2 separate regions of the Homo sapiens genome follow, and region 2 is linked to region 1. Evidence: fine-mapped expression QTL. A gene starts in region 1. The other region holds a variant in brackets. All regions are shown on one strand. Distances are from middle to middle.

The links.
Region 2: its variant is fine-mapped to the expression of PPFIA4 in whole blood (TOPMed, PIP 0.91).

What each region holds. Positions count from the first base shown.
Region 1 is chr1:203,024,256-203,028,504 of GRCh38, reverse strand. It overlaps PPFIA4 (PPFI scaffold protein A4), which reads right to left and starts at 2,014. Exons shown (of 30, transcript NM_001304331.2): 1 at 1,876-2,014. TMEM183A (transmembrane protein 183A) reads right to left here. Exons shown (of 8, transcript NM_138391.6): 8 at 3,657-4,249. RefSeq lists an enhancer at 1,567-2,088 and a silencer at 1,915-2,224.
Region 2 is chr1:203,067,617-203,071,865 of GRCh38, reverse strand. PPFIA4 (PPFI scaffold protein A4) reads right to left here. Exons shown (of 30, transcript NM_001304331.2): 26 at 4,074-4,171; 27 at 3,238-3,413; 28 at 106-174. It overlaps LOC105371687 (a long non-coding RNA gene), which reads left to right and starts at 4,178. Exons shown (of 2, transcript XR_922432.2): 1 at 4,178-4,249. RefSeq lists an enhancer at 2,350-2,399. The variant G/A (reference allele first, on the strand shown) is at 2,536.

The DNA of each region.
Region 1 (4,249 bases):
TTAACACCCAGCTCCCCAGCCCTGCTGAGCCTTCATCCCCACCTCATCACCACCACAGCCTGACTACTCATTCTCTTGCCTAGCTCTAGCTCTGCCATCCTCAGAGGCTCTGTGAGGACCTATAAGCCATCCCTGACAACTCTTTCCAACTCTAAGATTTCAGCAATCAACTCAGAGATGAGACCCAGGAGCCTGGCTGCCTGCCATGCCCTGCCCCTCCAGCCCTCCTTTACAGCCCAGCAGCCAGACCTCATGCACCACACGGTTCTGACATCACGACATGCTCAGCAGCACAAACCCCAACTCCACTGGATGCGAATTCCCTTCTACACCCTCCTCCCCCACACTATTCCATCTTCCAGAGATGGCGTCTCCCACTACACAGAGTGTCTAGGACATTCTTGGCCCCCAATAACCATTTTGTCATTCATTATCTCCTTACTTTGAGATACCGTTTACCCCACGAAGCCTCCTCAAGCCTCAGGACAAAATCTGAGAAAATAACCAAGGGAAATCATTCAAGCTGCCCTTTTGCTTAGGCAGCTTCCCTGGGACTACCTGGCCAGTTAATAGTGGTAGGGGGTGTGTAGGTTGGAGTCTAATTCAGACAGCTGTTTGAAAGCACGTGGACACAGTTCTTTCTTTTTCTAATCCAACAGCAATGTAACAGAATGGGGATGGGCGGTGAGAAGGGTGTTAACAGAATACCTGCTATGTGTGCCTCCTATGTGTACCTTTCAGCTACTCCGTGGCTGTAAATTGCCTTCAGAAGACCTAGCACCGAGCATAGTATCTGGCAGATAGTAGGTGTCCAACAAATGTTTGCTGGATGTTGAGCAAAGTACTAGGTACCAGATCCAAGAACTCTGGAAAGGACTATGGGAAATCCCTGAAACCTGGCTCCTGGAGGGGACCCTTAAGCTCACACCAGGAGGGGATCTCCCTGCGAAGCAGCGCCTCCTTAACCACTTGCTCTCCACACAGAACGGCCCCAACTCTCCTGCTCCTCTGATGGAAACTACCAGCACACCTCTCCTCAAAGGTGACATCAGCTCCTAGTGGCACCTTGTCCTGGATCCCTCCTCCTTCTCGAAGAAAACCACCTACACCATGTCTCCAAGTCCTCCAGCCCGACCTCTCTCTTCCCACCCACCATCAAAACCTCAAAATCTGCGCTGGAAAACATCCCTACTGCGTGGACGTAAGTCAGCGCCCCACTCCCACCCTCCCAGTTCAGGCATCTCTATTCCAGCCCTCTTTTCCTGTTGCGCCCACCCCTGTCCCCACCCCCACCAGGCCTCGGGTTGGCCGCTCCTTCCACCCCACCGCCCTGGCACTGCGGAGATGGGGGCATCTCTGGCACAGACTGAGGCTGGCAGTTCGAGGAATGGAGAGCTAGCGACAGGAACAGGGGTGCTATGAGCAACTCGGGAAAGATTAAGACCCCCGCGAAGAGCGAAGACCTCAGCCCATCAGAATCGCGTCCCCAAAGGAGTGGGGTTGGCCCCGGAGCCGAGAGGCGCTTTTTCTGACTCTCCTGGAGGGGAAATGGGGGCGCAGTCTGCTCCGTTCCCACCGGGAGACTCGCCAACTCGGCCCCCTCCCCTGAAGCCGATGGAGCAGAGGGCGCACTCCACGCCCTCCCCGCAGATCAGGCATCGCCCCTATCCTCACCCCCAAGGGCACAGGGCACCGCAAAGGAGGGCGAGGGGCGGCAGGGTAAGCAGTACCGACGCCTGCCGGAGGTAGCACATACGGAGTCAAAAAGGGCTGTTTCCCGAGGTGCGATAGACGAGACCCCTCCCCAAACTGTCGAGGGGAGCTGGAGATGGGGAAAAGACGCATCCTACCCCAGTCCAGGCTCTGGGCGCTCACCTGCCTGCAAATGCCGAAGGCCAGGCGGCTAGGCTCGGAAGCAGCAGGGAGCCGCCCCCGACCCGTGCAGCCCGACACGTCCTAGAGCCGAGCCGGCGCCGAGGTAGCTGCAGCCTCCGCCGCCCAAGCGCGCGGCCGCGGGGCCCCGCCCCCTTCCTCCGCGGACAACCCCCCCCGGCTCCGCCCCCTAGGCGGGGCTGGGCTGCCGCGACCGAGGCCACGCCTCCCGCCCCCAAGCGCCTCGGGTCCGGGCACGTGACGAGAGCGCCGCTTTGAGGCCGCGCGCCATCTTGGTTCAGCCTAGGAGGTGGCGAAGTGCCAGAGTTTTATTCCGCAGAAGGGTCTCAGGGCCCAGGAGTGCTGCCCACATTCTGCCCCTCCCTCTGAACTCGCCCTTGTTCCTAGTCTAACAGCCCGTTCCCTAAATTGGCCTTAGTCTCGGCCTTGTAATTGTCAAGTTTGTCACCTTTCACGCTTGCTCTCCTGCCCGTTCCTTGCTTTTCCTTTGATCGCACCCATTTTTTAAGTGGGGAAACTTGATATCCGGATACTACATCTGTAGTATGCTCTTCAGTGAATTGTGTCGCTTGCCTTCAGGCACCTGGCTGTTCTAACACTGTTACTACAAAATGAAGGGTTTGTCTATTACATATACATAGTATGAAAACAAGTCTCAAATGCCAAAATTCCTGACTGACAAATTTTAGCTAAGCCTCTCCATTTTCCTGAATTGCTCCCTTACCCTGCCCCCTGTGGCTATTAATGCATCTTTTCCATCTGCTTTGTGAAGTTTCATCACAGTGCCTACTCAATCCTTTACCAATACCCAGTAAGCACCACTAAAAGTGTGAACAATTTTTATATACATGCAATGTGTTCATGTGTGTGTATTTATAGATATATACACAGCATGTTCTATATCAGCAGCAAATGCTATAGTTGAGATCAGTGACACATACAACCTTCTCTCATTTATCTTCCACCCAATATATTCACCATTTGGCATAATTTCCTTGCGTCTCTTTGAAGACAGGGAAATCTTGAGTAATTCTGATCTGAGGGGTGGGTAAGTGAAGCTAAATCTGTGACCCTTGAACAACAGGGCCTTCAACTGCACAGGGCCAGTTGCATGCAGATTTTCTTCCTTCCCCGCCACCCCTGAGACAGCAAGACTACCCCTCCTCTTCTTACTCGTCAGCCTGCTCAACATGATGACCCACTTAATGAACAGTAAATGTATTTTCTCTTCTTTGATTTTCTTAATAACATTTTCTTTTCTCGAGCTTATTATAATAAGGTATATACTACATATACAAAATGCACATTAATCAACTGTTTATGTTATCAATAAGGCTTCCAGTCAACAGTAGGCTATTAAGTTTTCGGGCAGTCAAAAGTCATAGCAGATTTTCAACTGTGTGAGGGTCTGTGTCCATAACTCTCACAGCGTTCAAGGATCAATTTATGTTGCTTGACAGAGCAAAATCACAGTATATAACCTGTAGTCCAGAAAGTTCTAATTCTTCTTCGGGTGGTCTGGGGTCCTCACCAAAAGGAAATCCCTGAGACACTTCACATCCTGTCACTAATAAAGCATGTATCATGCTAGAAACGGCAACTCAGCCAATGCAGAGGAAGGCTGAAGCCAAGATAACGACTGGTAACACATTTTACCAAATGTTTGTCAATATTATGCTGAGAGAGAGCTGAGGCAGTATCTAGTACTGTATCTGTCACCATACCATGGAATTTGACACAAAAAACTCAGAGCTGAGTCAGAATACAATTATTAAGCCAAATTTATTTCACCCCCTTTTTAAAGGTACTCCTAAGCGGGGAACAATGCACCAAGACACTCCTGCTCCATGGCATCTTTAGTTCAGGCAACCTGGCAGGGACTGTGCTTCTCCCCTCCTGCCTCAAAGAGGCAACTTTTAATTGTAGAGATCTGCAAAGTGCTCATTGTCCTTAGGTTGTCTGTTATCACTCAAATGCCCAAATTCTGTTTTTGACTGACCCAGGCTCACTCTGTGTGAACAGTTTTAATACCACCCTCAACGTGGGATAAGGTTAGCTGTTAGCAGCAAAATTAAGCAGATGCTTTCTAGGAATATTCCTAGGGAAGATGGTAAAAAAAAAAAAACAAAAATGTGAATTTAGCAGTTTGCCTCACAAGATTTTCACTTTTAAAGAATACTGTCTTAATGCCCACCTCCTGGCAATATCCAGGTAATATCCAGCTCACTGGTTAATTTTGGATGGTGGAGGGTGGGAGGAGAGACAAGCAGCAAGGTTTTCTCCTTAGCAAAACAGAAAAACGTGATTCTCTTCTCAGAGTACACCTGAACAATAGGAGTCATCTAAACAACAGGAG
Region 2 (4,249 bases), 43 kb before region 1:
GACTAGCCTTCCAACAATTAGCCCAGGGAAGGCAGAACTCATGAACCTCAATCCAACGAAGATGACCAAATCCCCAAGGCTCCTAATTCATGGCCAGGTACTCACGTCATCCAGCTTCCGGTCTGTGCCCAAGGCCAACAGGTTATTGAACTCTCTTTCCATCACTTGGCGTGCCTGCAGTCCATAGAGCAGGAGAGGGAAAGGTGGGAAGGGCTATAGTTAACTACCTTTATGCCATCTTTCACCATTTTCCAAGGGTCCAAGGTCAGAGATGCAAGGCTCCAGTGCATTTAGCCCATTAGAGGCCTTTACACACCTTTTTGAAGCTGCTCCTTCAAGCAAACTCATAAGTAAAGCTGTAAGCCTAGGATTCTTTCATATACAGCAAATTAGAACAACATAATTTTTTTTTTTAAAGTAGTGGCCGGGCACTTTGGGAGGCCGAGGCGGGTAGATCACAAGGTCAGAAGGTCAAGACCATCCTGACTAACACAGTGAAACCCCGTCTCTACGAAAAATACAAAAAATTAGCCAGGCATGGTGTGGCAGGCGCCTGTAGTCCCAGCTACTCGGGAGGCTGAGGCAGGAGAATTGCTTGAACCCGGGAGGCGGAGCTTGCAGTGAGCCGAAATGGCACTACTGCACTCCAGCCTGGGGGACAGAGTGAGACTCTGTCTCAAAAAAAAAAAAAAAAATAGCAGTCTTGGCAACATACTGAGACCCTGTCTCAAAAAAAAAAAAAAATTTAATTAACTGGGCATGGTTGTGAACACCTACAGTCCCAGCTACCAGTTAGTTGGGCAGGAGGATAGCTTGATCCCAGGAGTCTGAGGCTACAGTGAGCTATGATCACACCTGCACTCCAGATCGGGTGATAGAACAAGACCCTGTCTCTAAGAAAAAAAAAAAACAAAAAAGTGGGATCATAGAACACATAGATAAAGAGACGTCACCTACTTGGAAAAAAAATTGTCTGAAAGGGGAAAATTGTGCCTGTCTTTCTCTTTCTGGAGGGGTAAGTAAGCATGTAAACCATGGATAACCAGAACATGACTGATTTGGATTAAATAAATATATCTGATAAGTTTTCACATCAAAAACTTAAAATTAGGAAGCCTGCTCAGCTGTGGATACTGGTTGTCCCTGGGCTGTGTGCATACAGACTCTCTCTAGGCCTCCCAGGAGATTAACTCATTCAGAGTTTTCAGAAATGCCAAAAACAGAAAAGTTTTCAAAACTGCTACCAGATATTTTTAACCTTTTTTTTTTTTTTTTTTTTTGAGGGAGACAGGGTCTCATTCTGTTGCCCAGGCTGGAGTGCAGTGGCACAATCATGGCTCACTGCAGCCTTAAACTCCTGGGCTCAAGCAAAACTCCCGCCTCAGCCTCCCGAGTAATTGGGACTACAGTCACGCATTACCAAACCCAGTTAATTTTTTAAACTTTTTGTAGAGACTGGGTCTCACTATGTTGCCCAGGCTGGTCTTAAACTCCTGGCCTCAAGCAATCCTCCCACCTTGACCTCCCAAAATGCTGAGCATACAGGCCTGAGCTACCACACCGAGCCATTTTTAACCATTTTAAATGAGGGATTCCGTATTGGGTCACACACTACTTCTCCCAACAGCTAAGCTCAATGACGGGGTCAGGAAATTAAGAAAGGTTAGAAAGCCATAGGGAGGTGTCCCTGCTACTATTTACAGAATTACTGCTATCCTCCAAAACTGAATGCATTAGAGATAGGAAATCAAAGAAAGAGAAAAGTCCATTTCTAGGTAGAAAATATTAAGCGTAGAGTTCCATAAGGACAGTCTGTGCCAGTATTGGGAACATAACATTTTTAGAAATGATCTGAAAGGAGAAGCACAGTAAATTTCAAGTATCCAAATGACACTGCTCCTCTGGGCAGTGAAAGGTGAGGAGGATAGGTGTAAATTTCAGAAGCGTCTCACAAAGAGAGGTGAGTGGGCAGCAAAGTGGCAGACGAGGCTTGCCCGAAGTGGGCAAGTGGAGAGAACGCACTTGGGGGAAAAATCCAGGCTCCTCTTGGAGAATGAAGGGATCTGTCCTATCTATTTTGACTGGTTGGGGTGGGGGCGGGGCGGGGGGGTCACTGCAGAATGCCTACAGGACACAATGGCCCTGTGCACTGCCACCACCCCCAAAAGGCCAACACACTGCCCAGAATTACGAGACAACACAGCCCTACCCTCATTCAAGCCAAAACGTGTCTGCTCCCAGAATAGCCTGTGCAGCTCTGGTGGCTGAATTTCAAAAGAGATCTGACAGCTGCAAACAGTCCAGACAAGGGCAGCTAAAACAATCAGGGGACAGAGGCGAGTCTATATGAGGAAAGCCTAAAAGAATTAAGAACACTCCGTCTGGAGAGACAAAGGCTTGGGCCCAGAGGCAATACAATCAGAGTTTATGAAATCATAAAAGGTGAGAACTAGTTAAATACAAATATCCTTACCAAACCTAAACCATCAAGAGGAGGTAGTTCCTTCCCCAGGGGCCTGACAGGGGCATTTTCAG[G/A]ACAAATAAAATCAGGAAGTACTCTACACAACAAGCAGTACTTCTAGAATCTATTACCCACAGGAAGTTAGAAAGGCCAAAAATATAAATAGGTTCAAGAGAATTTAGATATATTCTTAGATGACAGCTCCATAAAAATGATGAAATGTAATTTCATGAGATGTTTAATCATTTGAGCTGTTGACAGAGAGCCAAAGCCCTGGTGTGGAGAGGCTCTGGGTTGTGTAATTTGGTATATTTAGCTTTTTTAAGGCTGGGGGCCCAGGAGCAGATCCCTAGGGTGGTAGACAAAGGTGATATGGGCTCTCTGGTCCCTAGGGGCCCTGGGGCTCATTCCCCTCTAAGAAAAGTCAGATCAGAGAAGCAGGATGAAAAGGAAGGCTCAGAGTCTCAGCTATGAAGTGGGGTTAGGAGGAGATAGAGGTACCCAGGGCAGGACGGGGATGCGCATTGTAAGAGCACACTGTGTGCCAGGCCCACGCTAGGTGTGCTCTGTATGTGAAGGCCATGTGTTCCCATGAGGGCTTGCTTATGCACAGCGATCACTTGGAGAATTGAGGACATTGCGATCCCCTCTGGCATAGGCCCTAGAAAAGCTCCCCACCCCCCAAGATACCTAAGCCTTTGTGTATGAGGGAAAGAAAGAGAGCAAGTGAGGGATACAGGGAGAGACTCAAGTTGACTGATTAAAAGGCTGCCCACCTGGGTGTTCTGTGTGGGGATCTGGAGGATCAGGGCCAGTGTGTTGTGGTCGAAGTTCTCGTCCAGGGCCAGCAAGGCTCCATGCACACCACTCTCATGCAGGTTTCCTGCGTAGTCCCGGAGCCCAATAGACTGGACCCAATGAACCACCTGGTCGTTGGTCCAGACTAACACATCTGGAGTGTGGGGGAAGAAAAGGGACGGAAGGAGATACTACGTTTCATCAAGGGCCCTCCAAGGACAGAAGCAGAGCTCCCTAAACCCAGAGCCGCAGTCCACCCTGCTCTCTGACCCCCACTCCATCCCTAAATTTCCATATCTTCTTTCTCTCCTCCCTGGCACCTGGGTGCCTGGGGAACCAACCCCCCACTCACTCCATCCCTGCCAGTTTACAGGACCCGGGGTCAGGCCAACAGGCTCCAAGCTTTCTCCCCAGAACCCTTGCACGGGTCATCCCCCTGACCCAAGCTGGAATGGCCTTCTTATTCTTTCCACCTTCAAGGTCTCCTCTAAGACTTGCATCTCCCATCCAGCCCCATCCAGATCAACAAGTTCCACAGGCACACCAGTCTATAACACCGTCCCAGAGGATTCACTGCATTTGTCCAGTTGGTGGCTGCTATCTGGTATGTGGGGTTGAGGGAGGGGAATTATAGACAACTTGGCATGGACTATGTCTCCTCCATCAGACTGGGAGCTCCCTAAGGTGAGGCTGCATCTTCCTTTTCAGACTGGAAGATTCCCTGAGACACAGAATGCCTCCCCTCCACTTGGCCCAAGGCAGGGACCAGCCAAGCAGGCTGCTCCCGAACCCTCTCCAAGCCTGACGAGCTTACCCTTGATCTCATGCTGGCTCTCCTCTCGCCTCTTCTCCAGCTCCTTCCGGTCATAATTCAGCCTCTTCAGACACATGATGCCATACTGAAGACTGGTTCTGCAGGCACACAGCCCCCAAGCCAGAGCCTCAGTGGGGCCACATTCCCACACCACCTGTCTCACATCCAGCATCAGC